Linked DNA regions of Homo sapiens. The protein of the gene in region 1 interacts with the protein of each later gene in a biochemical or structural test. Each region holds a gene or a part of one and is shown in the gene's direction. Other genes may lie near its edges.

Evidence for each region.
Region 2: the proteins of MIS18A (region 1) and OIP5 form a complex in vitro, tested with the Homo sapiens proteins (3 studies listed by BioGRID).
Region 3: the proteins of MIS18A (region 1) and MIS18BP1 form a complex in vitro, tested with the Homo sapiens proteins (2 studies listed by BioGRID).

What each region holds. Positions count from the first base shown.
Region 1 is NC_000021.9:32,274,889-32,283,671, reverse strand, and holds the start of MIS18A (protein Mis18-alpha), read left to right. Parts: upstream 1-4,622; 5' UTR 4,623-4,657; coding exon 4,658-4,991; intron 4,992-8,775; coding exon 8,776-8,783. UniProt on the Homo sapiens protein: Required for recruitment of CENPA to centromeres and normal chromosome segregation during mitosis.
Region 2 is NC_000015.10:41,315,592-41,323,306, reverse strand, and holds part of OIP5 (protein Mis18-beta), read left to right. Parts: intron 1-3,526; coding exon 3,527-3,649; intron 3,650-7,715. UniProt on the Homo sapiens protein: Required for recruitment of CENPA to centromeres and normal chromosome segregation during mitosis.
Region 3 is NC_000014.9:45,222,203-45,229,917, reverse strand, and holds part of MIS18BP1 (mis18-binding protein 1), read left to right. Parts: intron 1-2,103; coding exon 2,104-2,255; intron 2,256-3,081; coding exon 3,082-3,175; intron 3,176-5,171; coding exon 5,172-6,000; intron 6,001-7,715. UniProt on the Homo sapiens protein: Required for recruitment of CENPA to centromeres and normal chromosome segregation during mitosis.

The sequences.
Region 1 (8,783 bases):
TCTGTGTTCTTCTAAGGTCCTCTTAGGGAATAGACAATTCTGTAGGCACTTTCATTGCAAACAGAATCCCAGTGAAGAAATGGTAGCGTCAGTCCAAGATACTAATCAACATGGCAATCTTCACTACAGGATGAGAACTGTTTTCCCTTTGCCCCAGGTAGGACATAGGCCGCCTTAGCCTTCCCTGCCTCAGGTGGGGAAGGGGCTGTGGCTGGCCCTGCTCTTTCCCACCTCACCTGTTCCCTGCGGTTTTCATTTCTGCCTAGCCTGAGATGGGGAAAGTGGGGGATAGGACAGTTTTCACTTTGATATGGTTTGGCTCTGTGTTCCCACCCAAATCTCATCTTGAATTGCAATCTCCATGTGTTGAGGGAGGGGCGTGGTGGGAGTAATTGGATCATGGGGGCAGTTCCCCCAGGCTGTTCTCATGATAGTGAGTTCTCACGAGATCTGGTGGTTTTAAAGTGTGGCACCTCCCCTTGGCTTGCTCTCTCTCTCTCCTGCTGCCACGTAAGACGTGCTTTGCTTCCCCTTTGTCTTCCGCCATGATTGCAAGTTTCCTGAGGCCTCCCCAAGCCATGCAGAACTGTGAGTCAGTTAAACCTCTTTCCTTTATAAGTTACCCAGTCTCAAGTAGTTCTTTATAGCAGCATGAGAACGGACTAATACACACTTGAACTTGTTCTAACTTTGTTTTGCACTCTTAGGTAAGATCTAGTTAGACCTGACCCTCTCTCCTAGTCCCCTCGGGGACTCCCTGCACATCCCAAATCCCAGTGCATGCCCATGACCCACTGGGCAAGGCCTCATCTCAGGCTGGCTTTCCCTCTGCCCTGGTTCTCCAGGAGTGCTGTTCACACTTGACTCACCACTGGGGAGTCTTCGTGCTTCCAGGTTAGCTCCTTAGGCAGAAATTAAGACTCTAGGTGACATCCTGCCAGCAAAGTTCCGATCTGGCTGACAACCTACCTTGTTTGCCTTTGTTGTGCTACCAAAACACACGCAGCTTGACGCTCCTGCAGGTCACCCTGTCCCCAAGTGCCTGGGAACCAACAGGTATGTAAGTGTCTCCTCAAAGTCTCTTATCAGCCAAATTGAGGCAAGGAGGCAGATACCCTCATTTTCTCTATTGGGGAGGGGCCCATCTCCAAAGAGATCCTTCCAGTGAAGTCATCTTGGTCACGATTTTCTCCCTTCCTTTATATTCCCAAAGTGTGTGAGAGAGGTGTTTAAGAGAAGGAGGAAATCAGCTAGCATGGTGGCCCATGCCTGTAATCCCAGCACTTTGGGAGGTCGAGGTGGGTGGATTACCTGAGGTCAGGAGTTCAAGACCAGCCTGGTCAACATGGTAAAGCCCCGTCTCTACTAAAAATACAAAGATTAGCTGGGTGTGGTGGCACGTGCCTGTAATCCCAGCTACTCGGGAGGCTGAGGTGGGAGAATCCCTTGAACCTGGGAGGTGGAGGTTGCAGTGAGCTGAGATCATGTCACTGCACTCCAGCCTGAGTGACAGAGTGAGACTCCAAAAAAAAAAAAAATAATAATAAGCAGGAGGAAATCATCTCTCCTAAATCTACTCTGAAGATTCCCCCAGGAAGGAGGGCAATCTCTCTCACACACACTTTGATATCTCATTTTTACTTCATCTTGGAGTCTTAGTGGAAACTTCAATTTTAACATACTGTAACAGATTGCTACATACATTTTTGGTTGCTAGTAAAAACAAAACAACAATTGAAACTGGCTTCCACAATAACTGGAACTGGTTGGCTCACACAACTGGAAGGATCTAGAGATTGGGTGCTGTTTCTCTGTGATTCCCTTACTCAGATTGGGCAAAATTGAACTTGACAAGGCCAAGTTTTTATTCTGAGCCAATCCCTATTGCCAGGGGAGCAGCACGGGTCGCCAGGGGTAGGTGCCATCCCTGCCCCAATCGCTATGGAAGAGTCATGGTCATCCTGATTGATCGGGTTAAACCTCTAGGGACTCATTCCCGGAACTGGTGGTGAGAGTGGTGGAGATGGACTCAACCTTATCCAAATCTCCTAGTTAGATAACTAGGAAGTACGGTGAGAATGTAGTTTAGGAAGCAACCACAACCACAAACTACGAGGTCATCTTTTTCAAGCATCTCATTTTGTCCTCCCATAAATATGATGATTTTGTGGTTAGCTGAGGTTTTGTTTTGTTTTTTATTTTTTTGAGACAGGATCTCATTCTGTCACCCAGGCTGGAGTGCAATAGCATAATCACAGCTTACTGCAGCCTCGACCTCCCAAGCCCAACCCATCCTCCTGCCTCAGCCTCACAAGCAACTGGGACTACAGGGGCGCACCACCATGCCTGGCTAATTTTGAAATCTTTGTAGAGACAGGGTCTCTCTATGTTGCCCAGGTTGTTCTCAAACTCCTGGGCTCAAGTGACTCTCTCGCTTCAGCCTCCCAAAGTGCCGGGGTTACAGGCATGAGCCACCATGGCTAGCCTTGTTTTTATATTCATAATATTAATACAAACACACTTGTGCCTATAGAGGAATTCATTTTGCATCAGCCAACTTCTCCATGATGTGCAGGAGGCATCATGCCTACAAACCATGATATTCTGAAGGACCATGAAAATGTTTCAATTTTTTTAATCAAGAGCAATAAATGAACTTACAGGTCTAAAAATGTTTTATGATATCATTTTAATATAATCATCTTCATAGCAATGTGACTATAAAATGAAATTTTTATTAACTGTTTTATGGAGAGAAAGGCCTACTAAGGCAAAAATAGGGCCCCTGAAAGTCACCACGCAGCTCGGCCTTGTATTCCTTCTTTCCTGGGGCATCCTATCATAGAATTTAAGTATTGACAATAGGAACCCAAAGTCTGAGACAAGATGATCCTTTGAATCCCCAAGTAACTAGCCACTTACTTAAAGAACTCATGTGGATTGTATCAATGTTGTACCAGAGATATTATGCTTGAAAACAACAGTCCAGGAAGGTCAGGCTTGGCTCTACAAAAGTAGAAGGGGCAAAGTATGGTGAGGCATGCCTGTAGTTCCAGCTACTTGGGAGGCTGAGGCAGGAGGATCGCTTGAGGCCAGGAGTTCGAGACCAGCCTGGGCAACATACTGAAACATCATCTCTGAAAAAATAAAGAAAAGAAAAAAAAAAGCAGAAGGAAGGAAGGGAATTCTATGGGTAAAAAAAAAAAGCCTAAATTATCTAAAGCATTTTCTTCCAGTAAGAAGGTGATTAACATGAGCATGGTGTGCCAGGGTTTACAAAGTATTTTCATGAATATTAGAAAACTCGATCCTCATGAACAACTTGGTGTAGTACTGAAGAAACAGACTCCATTTACTCCATGAAGAATTAGACTCAGGGAAGGCAAACAGCCTTTTCCACAGTTCCCTACACTGTTACTACCTTGTGGAGGGAGGGGTAAGTTAACCAGGACCACTGACTCCAAAGCTTTTGCTTTTTGCTAGTGGCTGTAAGCACTAAAATTGGAAGTACATTTACATAAATAGTTTATGCAACCAAGCAAAATAGGCAGTGACTTGGGGGACACCCAGAGCGTAGTAGGAACAGAGTAGGTCCTTGCAGGTAGCTTTCTTCCCAGGTATACCACCAGACTGTCTGTGGTGCAGCTGGCTGGTTCCCCGCCAGCTTTCCCTCCTGACCTACGGTGTTTTAGGCAGAGGCTGGCTTTCTGGGGCAGCTGAGGAAATCTGTCCTTATCATCAACAAGGGATGCTTCTTCCTTGCAAGGACGAATTGTTCCTTGATCCAAGCAGCAGGGACACTTCCAGGCTTTCCAGGGGCACTGCTGCTTCCTCAACTTTTTCCTTGCAGTGACAGCCTGAGTGATCCGGGGCCCTTCCCAGGGTCTCATTCCAGGGATAGCAGTGCGCAAAAGGACCCTGTGATGAGGGACTCCTCTATCCCCTTCCTTCTCCACTTCATGGAAAGGAGGTCCCCAGGAGCCGACAAAATAGAGCAGTGGTCATCAAAAGTGGAGCTGCTTATATACAACTATAATTAGTCCACTTACAAAAAAGAAGAAAAAGGGTGGTGGTCTGGCACAGTGGCTTACGCTTGCGATCCTGGCATTTTGGGAGGCCGAGTAGGGAAGATCGCTTAAGGCTAGGAGTTCGAGACCGGCAACATAGAAAAACTCCCCCCCCCACCCCCCAAAAAAGGTTGGGCTGCCAATACTGACAGCGTGGGCACGCCTAGGAGCTTGTTAGAAATGCAGATTCTCGGGCTAACCTGCTACCTGCTGAACCAGAGTCTGCGAAGATGGAACCTGGCGATCTGCTTAAGAAGCTCGCCAGGCGGTTCTTAGACACTCAAGCTTGCAACCCGTAACTTTCTCAGTGACGCTGCCCCTCCCACGGAAAGGGGTGAATAATCCTTAGGAAGACAAGCAAACAGGTCTGCATCATCAATTTCTTCAGGCTGGAAAACCTGACGCAGGCGCAGTGACTATCACGCTTGGCCAAGGCCGCACGGCGCGCATGCGCACTAGAGGCCGCCCGCCGTCCCGCCCCCTTCAGGCTTTTGCCCCTTCTCGGCCTCCGCCACCGCTCCCCGCCCCGCGCATGAGCAGCGGCGGTTTTTTTTCCCATGGCGCTCTGGGGCGCGGGCGATTTGTAGGTAATGGCAGGCGTTCGGTCACTGAGGTGTAGCAGAGGATGCGCTGGCGGCTGTGAGTGCGGCGACAAGGGCAAATGCAGCGACTCCTCGCTGTTGGGCAAGAGACTCTCCGAAGACTCGAGCCGCCACCAGCTGTTGCAGAAGTGGGCGAGCATGTGGAGCTCCATGAGCGAAGACGCGTCGGTGGCCGACATGGAGAGGGCGCAGCTGGAGGAGGAGGCGGCGGCTGCGGAGGAGAGGCCGCTGGTGTTCCTGTGCTCCGGCTGCCGGCGGCCGCTGGGCGACTCGCTGAGCTGGGTGGCCAGCCAGGAGGACACCAACTGCATCCTGCTTCGCTGTCAGTTGGGTCGAGCCGGGCAGGGGGGGCGTGGGGTCGCCTTCTTCCAGGGGTGCCGCGCGTGGGCGGCCCGGGAGGAGGCGGGGGCTCCTTGGGGCTGCCCAGGGACTTTAAGAGCAAAAAGTCTGAGAGTGTGAGCTGTGGCAGGAAAAGGGGAGGAGGGTCACCCCTCCACTTTGGCTCTCGGGCGGTGGGTTCTTTTCTGGGGTCCCCGATCCCAGAAGAGCAGTGGTTGAATCAGCATCATCGTGAGCATTACTCAGAAACAAAGGGCGACAAAGAATAACACTTTTAAAGACCCTAAAAAAAGAGAAACAAATGGTCAACTAGACTGTAAGCACTTGAGGTGCAGCCAGTACTATTACTCCCCATAGAAATTAGCAGGCTGTTGGTGTATCAGCGGATGCCTCTACAGCCTCCAGTGATAGAGCCGCAGAGTTGACGGAACACAGTGCTATAGGGAAGAAAGGGAAGGAAACTTGCAATAAAAGCACCAACAACCCCATGAAAACTGGCGAGGAAGGAGGATGTAGCAAAAGAGTTCAGAAGAAGGCAGGAATTAGTTTCTAATCCTGGTTCTAGCAGTTACCTCTTACCTCTGTTGTTCCACTGTTCCCTCATTTTGATGTTTTTGCAGTATTTAGGGATAAAGTGGTTCACATATTTTTTATGAATTGGTGTAAGAATGGCTGTTGTTTTTGGATTGTGATTTTTCAAGATGAAGTTTTTTCTGTCTTTGAATGCCGTAAATGTTCCGATGGCAGTAATTCACCACCGGCTTATCGACGTTTCTGGAACGTTTTCCTTGGTGTAATACTGGGAATAAAGGAGCACACCAGTGTCCAGTAGTTAACTGAAAGTTGAGATTAACTCTTTGCACCTATCAAAATCAAACCAGGCCGAGCGCGGTGCCTCAGGCCTGTAATCCCAGCACTTTGGGAGGCCGAAGTGGGCGGATCACGAGATCCGGAGATTGAGACCATCCTTGCCAACATGGTGAATGAAACCCCATCTCTACTAAAAATACAAAAATTCCAGATCAGCCTCGCCAAAATAAAAAATTAGCCGGGCATGGTGGTGTGCGCCTGTAATCCTAGCCACTCCGGAGGCTGAGGCAGGAGAATCACTTGAACCCGGGAGGCGGAGGTTGCAGTGGGCCGAGATTGCGCCACTGCACTCCAGCCTGGAGACAGAGCGAGACAACGTCTCAAAAAAGAAAAAAAAGAAAAAAGCAGATTTTTGGTTAGGTAGGAAAAGCTCTTTGTTTGAATGAGATTCCCTTGTTTACATGTTTTTAAGGAATAACGTGTTTGATGTTACATCTTTCATTTTATTTGTTTGTTTCGATAGAGTGTATTTTTTGCCATGTGGGCTCTTTTCGTTGTTTTGCGTTACTTATAGAAAGACTGTTTTTGTTATTTAATTTTTATAACAATAGCTTTTAAATTTAAAACATAGTTCTAAAATAGTAGTTTAAAATTTAAAGAACTATACATTTTTTGATTTATCAGATTTAGATAATAGGATTTAACACCTCCCCACACCCCCCAGTAAAGACAAATAAATGAACTCGGATTCATTTCCATTCCTTCCTTACCCAATTTGAATTAGTTTAATTATTTTCATTTTGTCAAGGTTTATACATTTACATTCTGTACATTTACATTCTGTTCTGTAGCTATAACAGCCTAACTATGATTTTTTAAAATAGGATTATTTATTTAATAGGTTTTTTTTTAATAGGGTTATAGTGGGTTAACAGCCCTCTGTTGCCCAGGTTGGAGTACAGTGGCGCAATCATAGCTCACTGTATGTAACCTTGAACGCCTGCTCAAACTATCCTCCCGGCTCAGCTTCCCAAGTAGCTTGGGACTACAGATACACACTAACACCTGGCTAATCTTTAAATTTTTTGTAGAGACAGAGTCTTGCTATGTTGCTCAGGCTGATCTCAAACTCCTGGCCCCAAGCAATCCCCTGCTTCGGCCTCCTAAAGTGCTGGGAGTACAGATGTGAGTTACAGCACCCAATCCTATAAAGTTTATATAAATTGTTTTCCCAACTCCAGTACTCATTAACATAAAAAAGCTTCTTAATAGCTTTTTCATTCCTGAATTGTTTGATTAATCATTAGTGCTCCCCACGTCCACATCTCCAAGAAAATTTCAAGTTTATGTGCTAGAAAATATTTTCCTTTTTTTTTTTTTTTTTTTTTTTTTTGAGACAGAGTCTCACTGTGTTGCCCAGGCTGGAGTGCAGTGGTGCAGTCTCAGCTCACTGCAAGCTCCACCTCCCGGGTTCACGCTATTCTCCTGCCTCAGCCTCCTGAGTAGCTGGGACTGCAGGCTCCCGCCACCACACCCCGCTAATTTTTTTGTATCTTTAGTAGAGACGGGGTTTCACCATGTTAGCCAGGATGGTCTCGATCTCCTGACCTCATGATCCGCCTGCCTCGGCCTCCCAAAGTGCTGGGATTATTTTCCTGTATTTATAAGTGAATGCTAGCTTGGCTGCAGGTACAGTTCTTGGTCACGCTCTTTGCTTTTGACAGGTGCTGAGCAGCTGGTGCAAAAGCCTTGAGACTGGTTAAAGAGAATAAAGATAAGATTTAGGGAGGAAGGAAGAGATCAGAAACTGCAAGGCGTTGTAGTCTGTTCTAAAGAGTAGTAATCTGTTCTAGTGAGTACGTTATTATGCTAGCTTAGGCAGGGGAGTAATGTGACCCCGCATTTTCTTTGGAGAAAGCATTGAAGGAGGAACAAGTATGGAAGTGGGGAGGTTAGTGAAGAGCCAGGGCAGTAGTCCAGGCAAGAGGTGGTGCTGGTGGTTTGGGGGCTGGAGTGAAGTTTGTGAGGTAGAATTGATGGGATGGATCAGTGGAGTAGATACAGGGGAGCAGGATGAGGAGACAAAGAATCAAGGATGACACCCTGGTTTCTGATTTCAGCAAGCAGGTAGATGGAGTTGGAGTTTACCGAGTTAAGGTAGACTGTAGGAGGCCGTGAAATCAAGAGTCTGTTTTGGCCATTTTAGGTCAGATGTCCCTTCTTCATTTCTCTTCACCCTCTACCCTGTCCTTTAGTGTTTCCTAGAGCTGGATTCTTTGGGAATGTTTGCTGCTGCCTCTGAAGTCCAGCAGTGACCTCTGTCCAAGTCATTGTTCAAGTAAAAGATGTGTGGCTGGGATCCTGAGGACCCTCTCAGTTACTTTTAGAGAAATGGGCCCTGTGTTTGAAATCTGGAGATATATGTGTTGGCTGTTTGCATCTTCCTAGGTTTGGAACCCAATTTCACTATCTGGCAGATAATTCTTTGCAGTGTGTGATTTGAGGTTCTACTTGTTCCAAGTTTACTGTGGAATGAATTTTCCCCTCTAATTTTAGCCATTCTATTAATGTTAGTGGTTTTCAGGGAAAGGGAGGAAATAACCTTTTAAAATTTTTCTTAAATTTTTATTTAAAAATTTTTTTTTAGAGATGGAGTCTCGTTATGTTGTCCAGGCTGACCTCGAACTCCTGGCCCCAAGCCATTCTCTCACCTTGGCCTCCCAAAGGGTTGGGATGACAGGTGTGAGTCCCTGCGCCTGGTTGGAAATAACTCTTATTCTGCTATCTTTTCCCAGAAGACCCCAGTACATTTAGTTTTAAACCGCTCTTTTGTGTGTTTGACTTTGGGCTTATTTTTTGTCCTCCGAGTTCTAAAAAGTTGGATTAGAAACTCTCTGTCTGCAGGTATGTTATAACGAACTACATTAATAAATTATTGTTACTTTCTCTGTTTCTAGGTGTTTCC
Region 2 (7,715 bases), on another chromosome or scaffold:
CACCATGTTGACCAGGCTGTTCTCAAACTCCTGATCTCAAGTGATCTGCCTGCCTCCCAAAATGCTGGGATTACAAGCGTGAGCCATTGCGCCCGAATGGAAATTAAATTAATTTCCACTGAGACATTTGTTTATAAGTACTGTGCTTTGTCTGAATTAATTAATTCCTACGTGGAATTTCAAATTAATGACACTTTATTTCATATTTTGCTTTTTGGTTAACTATATTCACAAGATTACATTACTATATGTGTGGTGTGGGTGTGGGACTTCATTTACCAATAAACTCAATATATTGTTATTTGTTCTTTTTTAGTATCCACTGACATGAATATTTCTTTTTAGCTATGTGATTTTTTTTTTTCTTTTTTAAGATGGAGTTTCGCTCTTGTTGCCCAGGCTGGAGTGCAGTGGCACAATCTCCGCTCACTGCAACCTCCGCCTCCCAGGTTCAAGCGATTCTCCTGCCTCACCCTCCTAAGTAGCTGGGATTACAGGCACCCGCCACCAGGCCTGGCTAATTTTTTTATTTTTAGTAGAGACAGGGTTTCGCCACGTTGGCCAGGCTGGTCTCGAACTCCTGACCTCAGGTGATCCACCCGCCTTGGCCTCCCAAAGTGCTGGGATTACAGGCGTGAGCCATCATGCCCGGGCTAGCTATGTGATTTTTATGTTGTATTTTGTTAATAGAATTCTCCTAGCCTGGGAAACAAAGTAAGACCCCATTTCTGCCAAAAAAAAAATTAGTAGGGCATGGTAGCATGCACCTGTAGTCCCAGCTTTGGGAAGCTGAGGCAGGTAGATCAGTTGAGCCCAGGAATTCAAGGCTGCAGTGAGCTATGATTGTATCACTACGTTCTAACCTGGGCGACAGAGCAAGAACTTGTCTCAAAAAAAAACCAAAAAAAACTTCATACTATATATTAATACAATTTATTTTTCCTTTACCAAACCACTTTAAAATTGCTTTTAGCACATGCATGATGAAATATTTTCTTAAAGTGCTTTTCTTGTAAAACATTTATTTATTTTTTAAGACGGGGTATTACCATGTTGCCTAGGCTGCTCTCGAATTCCTGGGCTCAAGCTATCTGCCCACTTTGGCCTCTCATAGTGCTGGGATTACAGTAGGTGTGAACCACTGTGCCTGACCAAAATGTTTCTTTCTAATATTTAAATATGTCTTATATACCAGCAAATATGATGACTTGCTCAAGAATTGTAATGAGAGCTAAAATCAACATCTGACTCTTCATCAGTAATCTTTTCAGAGGATAAGGAAAACAAAATAGATGGCTTGCTAGGGTAATAGGATTCCCTTTTCTTTCTCTTTTAGTCTGCGCATTTTTTTCTTTTTTATTTATTTATTTATTTATTTATTTTTTTATTGATCATTCTTGGGTGTTTCTCGCAGAGGGGGATTTGGCAGGGTCATAGGACAATAGTGGAGGGAAGGTCAGCAGATAAACAAGTGAACAAAGGTCTCTGGTTTTCCTAGGCAGAGGACCCTGCGGCCTTCCGCAGTGTTTGTGTCCCTGGGTACTTGAGATTAGGGAGTGGTGATGACTCTTAAGGAGCATGCTGCCTTCAAGCATCTGTTTAACAAAGCACATCTTGCACCGCCCTTAATCCATTTAACCCTGAGTGGACACAGCACATGTTTCAGAGAGCACAGGATTGGGGGTAAGGTCATAGATCAACAGGATCCCAAGGCAGAAGAATTTTTCTTAGTACAGAACAAAATGAAAAGTCTCCCATGTCTACTTCTTTCTACACAGACACAGCAGCCATCCGATTTCTCAATCTTTTCCCCACCTTTCCCCCTTTTCTATTCCACAAAACTGCCATTGTCATCATGGCCCATTCTCAATGAGCTGTTGGGTACACCTCCCAGACAGGGTGGTGGCCGGGCAGAGGGGCTCCTCACTTCCCAGTAGGGGCGGCCGGGCAGAGGCGCCCATCACCTCGCGGACGGGGCGGCTGGCCGGGCGGGGGGCTGACCCCCCCACCTCCCTCCAGGACGGGACGGCTGGCCGGGCGGGGGGCTGGACCACCCCACCTCCCTCCCGGACGGGGCGGCTGGCCGGGCGGGGGGCTGACCCCCCCACCTCCCTCCTGGACGGGGCGGCTGGCTGGGCGGGGGGCTGACCCCCCACCTCCCTCCCCGACAGGGTGGCTGCCGGGCGGAGACGCTCCTCACTTCCCAGATGGGGTGGCTGCCGGGCGGAGGGGCTCCTCACTTCTCAGACAGGGAGGCTGCCGGGCGGAGGGTCTCCTCACTTCTCAAGATGGGGCAGCCGGGCAGAGACGCTCCTCACCTCCCAGGCAGGGTCGCGGCCGGGCAGAGGCGCTCCTCACATCCCAGACGGGGCGGCAGGGCAGAGGCGTTCCCCACATCTCAGACCATGGGAGGCCGGGCAGAGACGCTCCTCACTTCCTAGATGGGATGGCGGCCGGGAAGAGGCGCTCCTCACTTCCTAGATGGGATGGCGGGCGGGCAGAGACGCTCCTCACTTTCCAGACTGGGCAGCCAGGCAGAGGGGCTCCTCACATCCCAGACGATGGGTGGCCAGGCAGAGACGCTCCTCACTTCCCAGACGGGGTGGCGGCTGGGCAGAGGCTGTAATCTCGGCACTTTGGGAGGCCAAGGCAGGCGGCTGGGAGGTGGAGGTTGTAGCGAGCCAAGATCATGCCACTGCACTCCAGCCTGGGCACCATTGAGCACTGAGTGAACGAGACGAGACTCCGTCTGCAATCCCGGCACCCTGGGAGGCCGAGGCTGGTGGATCACTCGCGGTTAGGAGCTGGAGACCAGCCCAGCCAACACAGCGAAACCCCGTCTCCACCAAAAAAATATGAAAACCTGTCAAGTGTGGCGGCGCGTGCCTGCAATCGCAGGCACTCGGCAGGCTGAGGCAGGAGAATCAGGCAGGGAGGTTGCAGTGAGCCGAGATGGCAGCAGTACAGTCCAGCTTTGGCTTGGCATCAGAGGGAGACCGTGGAAAGAGAGGGAGAGGGAGACCGTGGGGAGAGGAGGGAGAGGGAGAGGGCGCATTTTTTTCATTAACTTTCTTTTTTAATATAAGCAAAAGACAAACCTTGATTTTAGTTCTATGAACAATTTGTTTAGTAAGGCCCCAGTCAACTTGATTATTTTTCAACAACTGTGAATTTATATAATGATAGCCATTTTACATGATTTGTAGTTTTAAATGTTTAAATGTTAATCAGATTAGTTAGCTCTTTTTGTGTTTATTAGGGGTAAATTACCTTTCTCTTCTGAAGCGACAATTATACATCCATGATTGCTTTGACCAGAATATACGAGGGTATCCGCAATCCAGCATGTAATTAAATTACAATCTGAGTTACCCTTTCTTGAATGTGACATTCTTTCCGTCTCATTCCTATTACAATGTAATTTTCACCCTGACTTAGGTGTTAGGAATGCTTCAGAGACTAGTTATTTTTTATTTCTTATATGATTTTTTATTCTTACCCATATTGTGTTTTTCCCCACCCCTAGTACTTACAACCTTTTATTCTGTGGTTCTTGTGGGATTCCCGTTGGTTTCCATCTGTATTCTACCCATGCTGCCCTGGCTGCCTTGAGAGGTCACTTCTGCCTTTCCAGTGACAAAATGGTGTGGTGAGTAGACTTAGATATTGATCATCAAATACATTTTATTTTATTTATTTTGAGACAAAGTCCATCAAATAAATTTTAAAAGGTTTTTCAGGAAAGACAAAGTAGGCTGAGCACAGTGGCTTATGCCTGTAATCCCAGCACTTTAGGAGGCTGAGGCGGTGGATCACTCGAGGTCAGGAGTTTGAGACCAGCCTGGCTAACATGGTGAAACCCATCTCTACGAAAAATACAAAAATTAGCCAGGTGTAGTGGTAGACGCCTGTAATCCCAGCTACTCAGGAGGCTGAGGCACGAGAATTGTTGGAACCTGGGAGGCAGAGGCTGCAGTGAGCTGAGATCACGCCACTGTGAGATCACGCCACTGCACTCCAGCCTGGGAGACATAGTGAGATTCTGTCCAAAGGAAAAAAAAAAAAAAGTAGCTGGGCATGCTAGTGCACACCTGTAATCCCAGCTACTTGGGAGGCTGCGGCAAGAGAATTGCTTCAACCTGAGAGGTGGAGGTTGCACAGTGAGCTGAGATTGCACCACTACACTCCAGCCTGGGTGACAGAACAAGACTCTGTCTCAAAAAAAAAAAAAAGAAAAAAGACAAAGTGTTTGTACCAAAAAGATGCTAAAGTCAGGCACTGTCTTTGACAAAAAGATAGCAGTGGGCCAGGTGTGATGGCTCGCGCCTGTAATGCCAATGCTTTGTGAGGCCAAGGTGGGAGGACTGCTTGAGGGCAGGAGTTCAAGACCTCCATGGGCAATATAGTGAGACTCCTGTTTTTTTTTTATACAAAATTTTAAAAAATTAGCTGGATGTGGCGGCGTGCCCCTATAGTCCCAGTTACTTGGGAGGCTGAGGTGGGAGGATCACCTGAGCCCAGGAGTTCAAGGTTACATTTTGCTGTGATCATACCACTGCATTCCACTTTGGGTGACAAAAAAAAAAAAAAGCAGTGGGACCAAAATATAATCTTATAACATTATGATTATCTTCCATGTCTTATCATACCATATCTTAAAAGTCATACCATGGGAAAATTCAGAGGGTATTCTTTCATTAAAGAAACTTGTTGCCAGATGTGGTGGTGTGTGCCTGTAATTCTAGCTACCCAGGAGGCTGAGGCAGGAGGATCACTTGAATCTTGGTGTTTGAGACCAGCCTAGGCAACATGGTGAAGCCTCCCATCTCAAACTGCTCCCTTATGGGCCGGGTGCAGTGGCTCACGCCTGTAATCCCAGCACTTTGGGAGGCTGAGGTCGGGGGTTCACCTGAGGTCAGGAGTTCGAGACCAGCTTGGCCAACATGGTGGAACCCCATCTCCATTTAAAATACGAAAATAAGCCAAGTGTGGTGGCACACGCCTGTGGTCGCAGCTACTCGGGAGGTGAGGCAGAAGAATTGCTTGAACCCAGGAGGCGGAGGTTGCAGTGAGCCAAGATCAAGCCACTGCACTTCAGCCTGGGTGACAGAGCTAGACTCTGTCTCAGAAAAAATAAAAATAAATAAAAGATAAAAAGAACATTCTAGAAGGCAAGCTTTTGCAAAATAATGTTGCAGTAGATACCTTTTGGGTTTGTGCCCAGCCTCTCTCTCCCTCTAATAGGTGGGGCCTTGTATATTTGTATCATGTGTGATTTGTATCATGTGTGATTCCCACTCCCAGGTACTGGATCAAGAATGAATACCTGGCCAGGCATGGTGGGTCATGCCTGTAATCTCAGCACTTTGGAAGGCTGAGTTGGAGGATTGTTTGAGCTTAGGAGTTTGAGACCAGCCTAGGCAACATAGCAAGACTCTGTCTCTACAAAAAATTTAAAATATTAACTGTGTATGGTGGTGTATGCCTGTAGTCCTAGCTACTCTGGAGGCTAAGGTGGGAGGATAGCTACAGCCCAGGAGTTCAAGGTTACAGTGAGCTATGATTGTGTCACTGTATTCTAGCATGGGGAGCAGAGCAAGACCCTGTCTCTTAAAAACCAAAAACGGTGCTGGGCGTGGTAGCTCACGCCTGTAACCCCAGTACTTTGGGAGGCCGAGGTGGGCAGATCATGAGGTCAGGAGATCGAGATCATCCTGGCCAACATGGGAAACCCCGTCTCTACTAAAAATACAAAAAAAATTAGCTGGGCATGGTGGCGCATGCCTGTAATCCTAGCTACTTGGGAGGCTGAGGCAGGAGAATCACTTGAACCGGGGAGTCAGAGGTTGCAGTGAACCAAGATCGCGCCACTGCACTCCAGCCTGGCAACAGAGCGAGACTCTGTCTCAAAAAAAAAAAAAAAAAGAAAAATGGATACCTGACCCAAACTAAGCCAACCAGTTTTCTACCTTAGGAATTTGAAACAAGGGCCCAGAAATACCAGTTACGTGTAGATAGTACTAGTGTTGAAGTTTGGAAGTGAAAGCTCTATGTATGGGATAGCTATTTCCCATGTGATGCATGTAGCTGCAGGGAAGTCTTCTCTGCAGTAAAACATGAAGCAGACACAGAGAAAAGTAAAAATAATGATCATGTAGCCTCATAGTGTCAGAAAAACTACCCTACTGGTTATCCTTTCTCATGAATTACATTGGCTATTTCATTATTTTCCTAATAAATTGCACTTTTAACTTAAGCTTTTTTACTTATTACAAGAAACTGAAACATCCTTAGAAGTCTTTCCTTGACCATTAAAAAACAAAAACAAGCATTGACAACCTAGTTTATGTAGGCATTATGCTTATATCACTGAGTTCTTAATATAGTTTAAGAAAACTAGGGCTCAAAGAGGTGGAAGAGCTGAGATTTGAGCATGTCTTAACTCAAAAGCTTATTTTCCTTTCATAAAACTAAAAGGTTTCCTTTTTCTCATGTCTTTTTTTTTTTTTTTTTTTTTGAGATGGAGTCTTGCTGTGGCGCCCAGGCTGGAGTGCAGTGACGTGATCTTGGTTCACTGTAAGCTTCACCCCCTGGGTTCACACCATTCTCCTGCCTCAGCCTCCCAAGTAGCTGGAACTACAGGCGCCCACCACCACGCTTGGCTAATTTTTTGTATTTTTAGTAGAGACGGGGTTTCACTGTGTTAGCCAGGATGGTCTCGATCTCCTTGACCTCGTGATCCGCCCGCCTTGGCCTCCTAAGGTGCTGGGATTACAGGCATGAGCCACCGCGCCCGGCCGCTTTTTCTCATTTCTTATGCTTAGATAGATGTTTTTAGCTGAGTTATGGTTGACTAAACAATAAAACTTATCAGCCAGTCCTTTACCATGGGTTGCTCACTGTGCATTAGGTATACCATTTGTTCTTCATTGCAAATTTCCAACACAAAATATATACCTGAGATCCTGAGATGGATTGATCATTCTCTTTTTTTAAAGACGGAGTCTCACTCTGTCACCCAGGCTGGAAGTGCAATGGCATGATCTCAGCTCACTGCAACCTGCACCTCCTGGGTTCAAGTGATTCTCCTGCCTGGGCTTCCCAAAATGTTAAGATTACAGGCATTAATCACCATGCCCAGCCTCAATTTTTAGATTCTTTTTTTTTTTCTTTGAGACGGAGTCTTGCTCTTTCGCCCAGGCTGGAGCTGGAGTGCAGTGGCACCATCTCGGCTCACTGCAAGCTCCGCCTCCCAGGTTCACGCCATTGTCCTGCCTCAGCCTCCCGAGTAGCTGGGACTACAGGCGCCCGCCACCATGTCTGGCTAATTTTTTTGTATTTTTAGTAGAGACGGGGTTTTACCGTGTTAGCCAGCATGGTCTTGATCTCCTGCCTTGGCCACCTAAAGTGCTGGGATTACAGGTGTGAGCCACTGCGCCACCAATTTCTAGATTCTTAAGCAATTTCTATTTAGAATTAACTTTAAAGTGGGAAAAAAAACTGTAAATGTGTGCTGTTAGTAATCCCACATCTTTTTTAGAAATCAGTACAAAAGTAAATGTTCTAGAGAAGCAATAATTGCATTTTTGTTAGGGCAGTAAGCTTTTAGTAACATATTTTTAACATAAATTTGAAAAGCATTATGGGATTTTGGTTAATTTCTTAATCTTTAAAATGAGTTGGATAAAAGGTCAGGACATTCTTTTTGATTAAGT
Region 3 (7,715 bases), on another chromosome or scaffold:
CTAGTTCCTTCTCAACCCTTCCTCTTTTTATCAAAAGTCATCCTATTTTCTCTAAATTAGGCATATTGCCTATTTTTATTGCTGGAGCATCTTGAGTATGCTGGAACCTTGGGGCTTCGGCACCTGCTCTCTACTTTTTTACTCCTAAAACAAGAAAATCCTTGACAGTATATCTCACTTTTAATCATTTGTTGGTCTTTAGTCTTGGTTCTTACCTCTTCCTGTACCCCATTTCACTTAGAGCCAGCACTTATTAGGGATTTGATCTTAATTGCAAATATTATCAGTAAAGTGTTTAAGAAAGCTATTGACAAGAGAAATGAATACAAATTTAAAAGACTAAAGTTTGGTAAACTATTTTACATACCAGCTGTGTCCATAGGAAAATCACTCAGCAATTTTTTTTTTTTTTTTGAGACAGGGTCTTGCTCTGTCTCCCAGGCTGGAATATAGTGGTGCAATCATGGCTCACTGCAGCCTCAACCTCCTTGGTTCAAGCAATCCTCCCACCTCAGCCTCCAAAGTAGCTGGGACTACAGGCATACAGTACTGCACTTGGCTTGTTTTTTATTTCTTGTAGAGATGGGATCCTACTATGTTGCCAGGCTGGTCTCCTACTCCTGGCCTCAAGCAGTCCTCCCACCTTGGCCTCCCAAAGTGCTGGGATTATAGACATGAAACATGGCACCTGGTGTCAACATTTTTAAAGTGCTTTCCATGAACCCTGGTCTATTAAGTTTTAGGAACTTAGAGATGAATAAGGCATGATTCCCCCCACCCCCACCCCCAGGGATCTTGGTTTAGGGGCAAATATTAATATATTCTGTTATGATTGCATCATTTTTCTAGTGTAATTCATTAGATCTTTTCTTAATGAAACTGTTAGACACTATCTTCATATCACGTAAGTTATTTTGAGTGGTGGTTGGGGCTGTTATTAATTTTATTATTATCATTGCACTTTGCATGAAAAAAACAAAACCACATCTAACATTATATAGCTAAGGTTATGTAAAGGTACCAACCCATGTTAATTTAAGATAATGTAATTTTATGTATGTGTTTTAATGATTTGCCTAAAAAGTACTTGTGTATCATAGTATTGCTCTTAAAGCACTTTATCTCTGTTATTACACTTACCAGAGTATATGATAAATGACCTATCATAATAGAAGCTTCCTTCATTATATGGTAATATTTTCAAGAGCAAGGACTAGTCAGTACATCTTTAAAGAATAGCTTCTAGAAAAATAACAAAATGTTTTTATACTTTTTATGAATCTGTTTTAACTTACCTAGAATTCCAGCTTAGTAACTGTTTGTTGAGCATATATTATATACTGTATAATTTAGTTTTGCTCAAAATTTTAATTACAGAAATTTAGTTATACATTGGAGTACATAAACTAGTTGAAACATAATTCTACATACATGAAGAAATAGAAGAAGAACAGTTATTAGCTTTCTATTTAGTTGATGTGCAGTTAGGATGAACAGGAATTTTTATTTACAAAATGGATTAACCTTACTATTCTGTCTTTAGATGTGACAAAGGAGATCCAAAACAGATGGTCGTGAATAATATGGCTGTCTAGGCTTTTTAAATTTTTTTTGAAGGAAAAAAAGTGATTCAAACAAAATGTAGCGTAGCGCTATACAGAGTGATTCTTTCCAAATAAAATTGCTTTATATCCTAGTCAAATTATAACAAATATTTATGACAGAGGGATTAGACAGATTATCATTATTATTTCTGAGACAGGGTGTTGCTCTGTCACCCAGGCTGGAGTACAGTGGCACAATCACGGCTCACTGCAGCCTCGACCTCCCTGGCTCAAGTGATCCTCCCACCTCAGGCTCCCAAGTATCTGGGACCATAGGCTTGCACCAACCTTTTATTCTTTGTAGAATCAGTGTATCACTATTTTGCCTAGGCTAGTCTTGAACTCCTGGGCTCAAGCAATCCTCCTCCCTCGGCCTCCCAGAGTGCTGGGATTACAGGCGTGAGCCACCACACCTAGCGTCAAAGTTAATTCTTCATGTAGAAAAGCAGCTTCTCTTTTATATAACCATTTATTGAAATCTCCATCTTTGTATTCATAGAACTGAAGAGTAATAAGCACAGTGAGTCACCAGGAGCTACAGAATTAAACATGTGCCACAGTAATTGCCAAAATAAACCAACATTAAGGTTCCCAGATGACCAAGTAAATAATACTATTCAAAATGGAGGAGGAGATGACTTATCTAATCAGGTAAGGCTTTATTGTACACTGTATAGTTCAAGTTGATATTTAGAAGGGTGATTTACTACTGAAAAGGTTTGGGACCATATCAGGGACGTGAGTTCTGTTTTTTTTTTTTTTTTCTTTTGAGATGGAGTCTCCCTCTATTGCCCAGGCTGGAGTGCAGTGGCGTGATCTCGGCTTATTGCACCCTCTGCCTCCTGGGTTCAAGTGATTCTCCTGCCTCAACCTCCACCTCCTGGGTTCGAGTGATTCTCCTGCCTCAGCTTCCCGAGTAGCTGGGACTACAGGCATGCACCACCACGCCTGGCTAATTTTTGTATTTTTAGTAGTAACGGGGTTTCACCATATTGGCCAGGCTGGTCTCGAACTCCTGACCTTGTGATTCACCCACCTCTGCCTCCCAAAGTGCTGGGATTACAGTCGTGAGCCACTGCGCCCAGCCAAGAGTTCTGTTTTTCAAGTATCAGCTTTTCATTTACTTGGGGACTGAATGTCTTGATATTTATTTTCCCTGTCTCTCAATGAAAAAATGCAGGCAACAATAAAAGTTTTAGCTTTTAGAGTAAAGCTTAAATAAAGCATATTTTTAAAAGCACTTGAAAAACCACAAAGTATTAAATTAATGTAGAAAATATGTAGGATAATGGATTCCCAGATGTTGCTCGTAGTGCTCAAGGTCTGGCAAGTAAGTTTCGGAATGTGTCCACTAATGAAATTTGCGGAACTGTAAGTACCTAGAAATTTGTATGCTTGATGCATACTATGAAAATGCTTCAGATCATGTTTTGGTAGTAGTTTTAAAATAAAACCTAGGTATCTTTTTGTTTTGAAGGAATTAATTGGAAAAAAAGAATATAAAATGTCTTCAAAGAAACTAAAAATTGGTGAAAGAACAAATGAAAGGATAATAAAAAGTCAGAAGCAAGGTAATATATCTTTAATGGTTTTTTAATCATAAGCAGAAAGCTACTATGTGAAATGTTTTTAATATGATAAAAGTGATCTTGTAAATTTCCTCATGTAAAATGGCAAATTATTTAATGTTTTTAAATGTTTGGTTTTGTTATTTTTACATAAGATGATTTTCATAATAAAATAGCCCTTTTAAAAACCACCTATACTTACAGGTTTGCCTTCTTTAATCTGGGTACTAAAATATTTGTTTAGATCACAAAACTATATATCATTTAACATATGCTTACAGGAATGTGTAAAGAGTGAATCCTTTTATGAATTTAGTACAATAATTTAGTTTTAAGTGTGGATTTTCAGAGTGATTTAATTGGAATCCTGCATGCCATAATTTAGAGGCTTTCGTCTAAATGTTAGCAAGTTTACAATTTCATGTTGAGCTAAATCCATTAGCTTTATAGCATTTTTTTGTGTTTTATTTCCTCTTATAAGTGAAAAGAAGTGAAAGTGAAGAACATTTATTTGTTTGAAGAAGATAGGAAAGCAGTGCTACTTATACTTCCGAGTTCATATTCGGTTTAAGTATCCAAGATAGCTGGATCTTTATTAAATAATTTATTAAAATTAACAAATACTCTGAATGGAAATATTGTTCAAAATTATAATGTTGAAAATTTTCAAATTCCCAGGTAAACATTTGAATTGGATTTATATGAGGAGTTAGAAGAAAATACTTTTCTCATAATTTGAAGATATATGATGCCAGTGGAAAATCTTGTAGACACTTTCTAAATTATTTTGATTATTACCTTTTTCCACGGATTGTAATTTAGAGGCTTCTTTTCTCCCCAGCATTCAATATTATCTATCAGTCTCATTCTGTCAGTCATCTTGTAAACAATGGCACATAATATGTGGAGGTGGTTGTAATATGTTTCTATGACAGTGGGATGATTTGCAGTTTATATGTATTTCTAATTACAGTTGGATAGTTTCAGTTAGTTTGACTTCTCATTACTTAGGTTTTGAATTGGTGAATTGTTCTCATTTTAATTTGCTTTCTTTAGTGACAAGATATAAGATTCTCAGGTTGTTCTCTTTTGCTTGTTTTGTACTTCATGGTGTTTGGGGGGATTCATTTTGAGTGTGTTTCTATGACCACCATTGGCAATGAAAGTGGAACCATGCAGATGGAGTTCCATGTCCTCCTAACTAGCACAGCTCATATAATACTTAGTAAGGTTTCAGTGACTACTGGTTTTCTTATATCTTCTGAATATTTTACCTCCAGGGCTTTGATTTAACAAGTATTTACTTATTGCCTACTGTATATGTGAAAGGCTCTGTACTAACTCCAGCAAAAAAAAAAATCAAACCATACAGATAAAGTTCTAACCATTAATTATTTTTTCCAGTCTGATTGAAAGACAAGTGTGCAATTATAATACATGTCTCACTGTCAAACATGGCATTATTTAAAGTATTCTGGAAACTTGAAGGAGAGCTTTCATTCAGTGTAGGGAATGTGTACAAGTTTGTACACTAGGTGGGTTAGAGAATAAAATCGAAGCAGGTAGTGATTTTGTTTATAGATGAATGAAGAACATCTTCAAAGCAGAGTGGACAACATTATTAAAAGTGGAGAACCAAGAAAATCTGAGAAATAGCAAGTGGTGTGGTTCTGAACATAGAATATAGTTGAGATTTTGACAACAGTGAGAGATTGGAACTATGTGGAAGGCCAGGCAGAGGAGCTTATTTATATGTCTACTAAAAGACTGTGAGAAGTCACTGTCAGGTTTGTATAAACAATAGTATATGTTTACAGTTGAAGGGGCAGTGGTCTGAATAGACCTGGGCTTCAGAAAGATTAATATGACAGGTGGGTATACAGTGTAGCTCGTGGATAAAAATAGTATCTTTTATTTGTGAAAATATATTTTCTGTGCTTATATTTGTTTATAGCTAATTTGAGATTTTGGTCTTTGGTTTTGTCTTATGAAATTAAAGAGACAACTGAAGAATTGGATGTATCCATTGATATTCTAACCTCAAGGGAACAGTTTTTCTCAGATGAAGAAAGAAAATACATGGCCATCAATCAGAAGAAAGCTTATATTTTAGTAACACCACTTAAATCTAGAAAAGTGATAGAGCAAAGATGCATGAGGTATAATCTGTCCGCTGGCACCATCAAAGCAGTAACAGATTTTGTAATACCAGAGTGTCAAAAAAAAAGTCCCATCAGCAAGTCCATGGGGACTTTAGAAAATACATTTGAAGGTCATAAAAGTAAAAACAAGGAAGATTGCGATGAACGTGACTTACTTACTGTCAACCGGAAAATAAAAATATCTAACCTTGAAAAGGAACAAATGCTCACCTCTGACTTTAAGAAAAATACCAGACTATTACCAAAATTGAAGAAAATAGAAAATCAGGTAGCTATGTCATTTTATAAGCATCAGTCCTCACCAGATTTGTCAAGTGAAGAAAGTGAAACAGAAAAGGAAATTAAAAGGAAAGCTGAAGTTAAGAAAACCAAAGCAGGAAACACCAAAGAAGCAGTGGTTCACCTGAGAAAGAGCACAAGAAACACAAGTAATATTCCAGTGATTTTGGAACCTGAAACTGAAGAAAGTGAAAATGAATTTTATATCAAACAAAAGAAAGCTAGACCTTCCGTCAAAGAAACTCTTCAGAAGTCTGGTGTTAGGAAAGAGTTTCCAATTACTGAGGCAGTAGGATCTGATAAGACAAATAGGCATCCCTTAGAATGCTTACCTGGTTTAATTCAGGATAAGGAATGGAATGAGAAGGAGTTACAGAAACTTCATTGGTAAGTAGTTAGATTTCATTCCGAAATATCTACAGAGCAGCCACAAGACAGTTAAAGACATAAAAATAGCAATAAGGGGTTAACATGGAAGATGTCATTAAAAAAAAGGGAGAAATTATAATTTGCACAGGGAATGGAGATAGACTACACATAACTCCTAGTGGTATTTTTGTGGTCATCTCTAATACGAGGAAAGTACGAGGAAAGCCTAAGTATGAGGAAAGTAAAAGTGACCTTTTCATTCCCATGTAATATTTCAAGATAGCCAAATAGTACTCTCTCACGTAGCTTCATATTTTAAGAAATGCATTTTTTTGTTTTTTGTTTTGTTTTGTTTTGATTGAGACGGAGTCTCGCCCTGCTGCCCCGTCTGGAGTGCAATGCCACAATCCCGGTTACTGCAACCTCTGCCTCCCGGGTTCAAGCGATTCTCCTGCCTCAGCCTCCTGAGTAGCTGGGACTACAGGCGCACGCTGCCACGCCTGGCTAATTTTTATATTTTTAGTAGAGATGAGGTTTCACCATGTTGGTCAGGCTGGTCTTGAACTCCTGACCTAATGATCCGCCCACCTTGGCTTCCCAAAGTGCTGGGATTATAGGCATAAGCCACCGTGCCCGGCCTAACAAGTGTTATAAATAGTAAAGTTTGGTGCCCCACAAGTGAGACTCAAGGATACTAGAAACCTAGAAGTGGGCACTGAAGGGTAACAAAGAGAGTTTAAAGAGGAGCTCTCCAGTTCTGGGTTGAGGAGCAGAAAGGGGGACTTCTGACACTCAGAAACAGTAGAGGAAATCCCCAGTGTTTGGTTTGGTTTGTTTTTGTTTTGTTTTGTTTTGTTTTGTTTTGTTTTTGTCTTTTCTCTTAACTCAGTCCCCATGCAATCCTGCAGGGGCTACAGTCACAGCATCAGCTGGGGCTGAGATATATCTAAAACTCTGAGAGATGAGAACCTTCTCTACAATTAGGAATGGTTGCCTCAAAGTAGTGGGGCAAGTACCTGTTGCTTCTGTTCTCTTTCTGTTGTCTGTTGCTTGGTACTGGACAAAAATTCAGTTGTGTGAGGCATACAGCAGAGCAGAGTAATAAAAGCCCCAGCTTTCTGGCCAGAGCACTGACAAGGGAAACTCCAGGGAACCAGAAATCGCGGAAAGAGAGGAAGTAGGAAAAGCAACCCCATAAAGTTGTTTATGAACTTCTATGCCACCCAGGAGTTGTACATATGTGGACATGGTCCTAAAGAGCATATAAAAGACTGAGAACTGAACTAAACAGTAGACCACACCCAGTTTCTAGGCTAGCTACTCAGTGTCCCACACACAGGAAGATCCTAACAGCACTGCAGAGCTTTGAAAAATGAAACTGACATTGAAACAACAATGATAGTAGACTGAACGTATAGCTTGGGATACCACCAGGTTGATGACCTGCTAAAATAAAAATATTAACATTTCACTTGAAGCAGTAAAATATTGATTCTAAGTAGACTGTTGAAGTTAAGTATATTTAATGTCATCCCTAGAGCAACTTCTAAAAAAACTATACAAAGAAATAATTTCAAACATAAATTAAAATACTGGAAAATCAAATAGCCCAAAAGAAGGCAAAGAAGAAGAGAAGTGGAGGATTTTTTTACATGGAACAAGCAGAAAACAAATAATAAAATTATTGACCTAAATCCAACATAATTAAATTAAATGGTCTAAACATACCAATT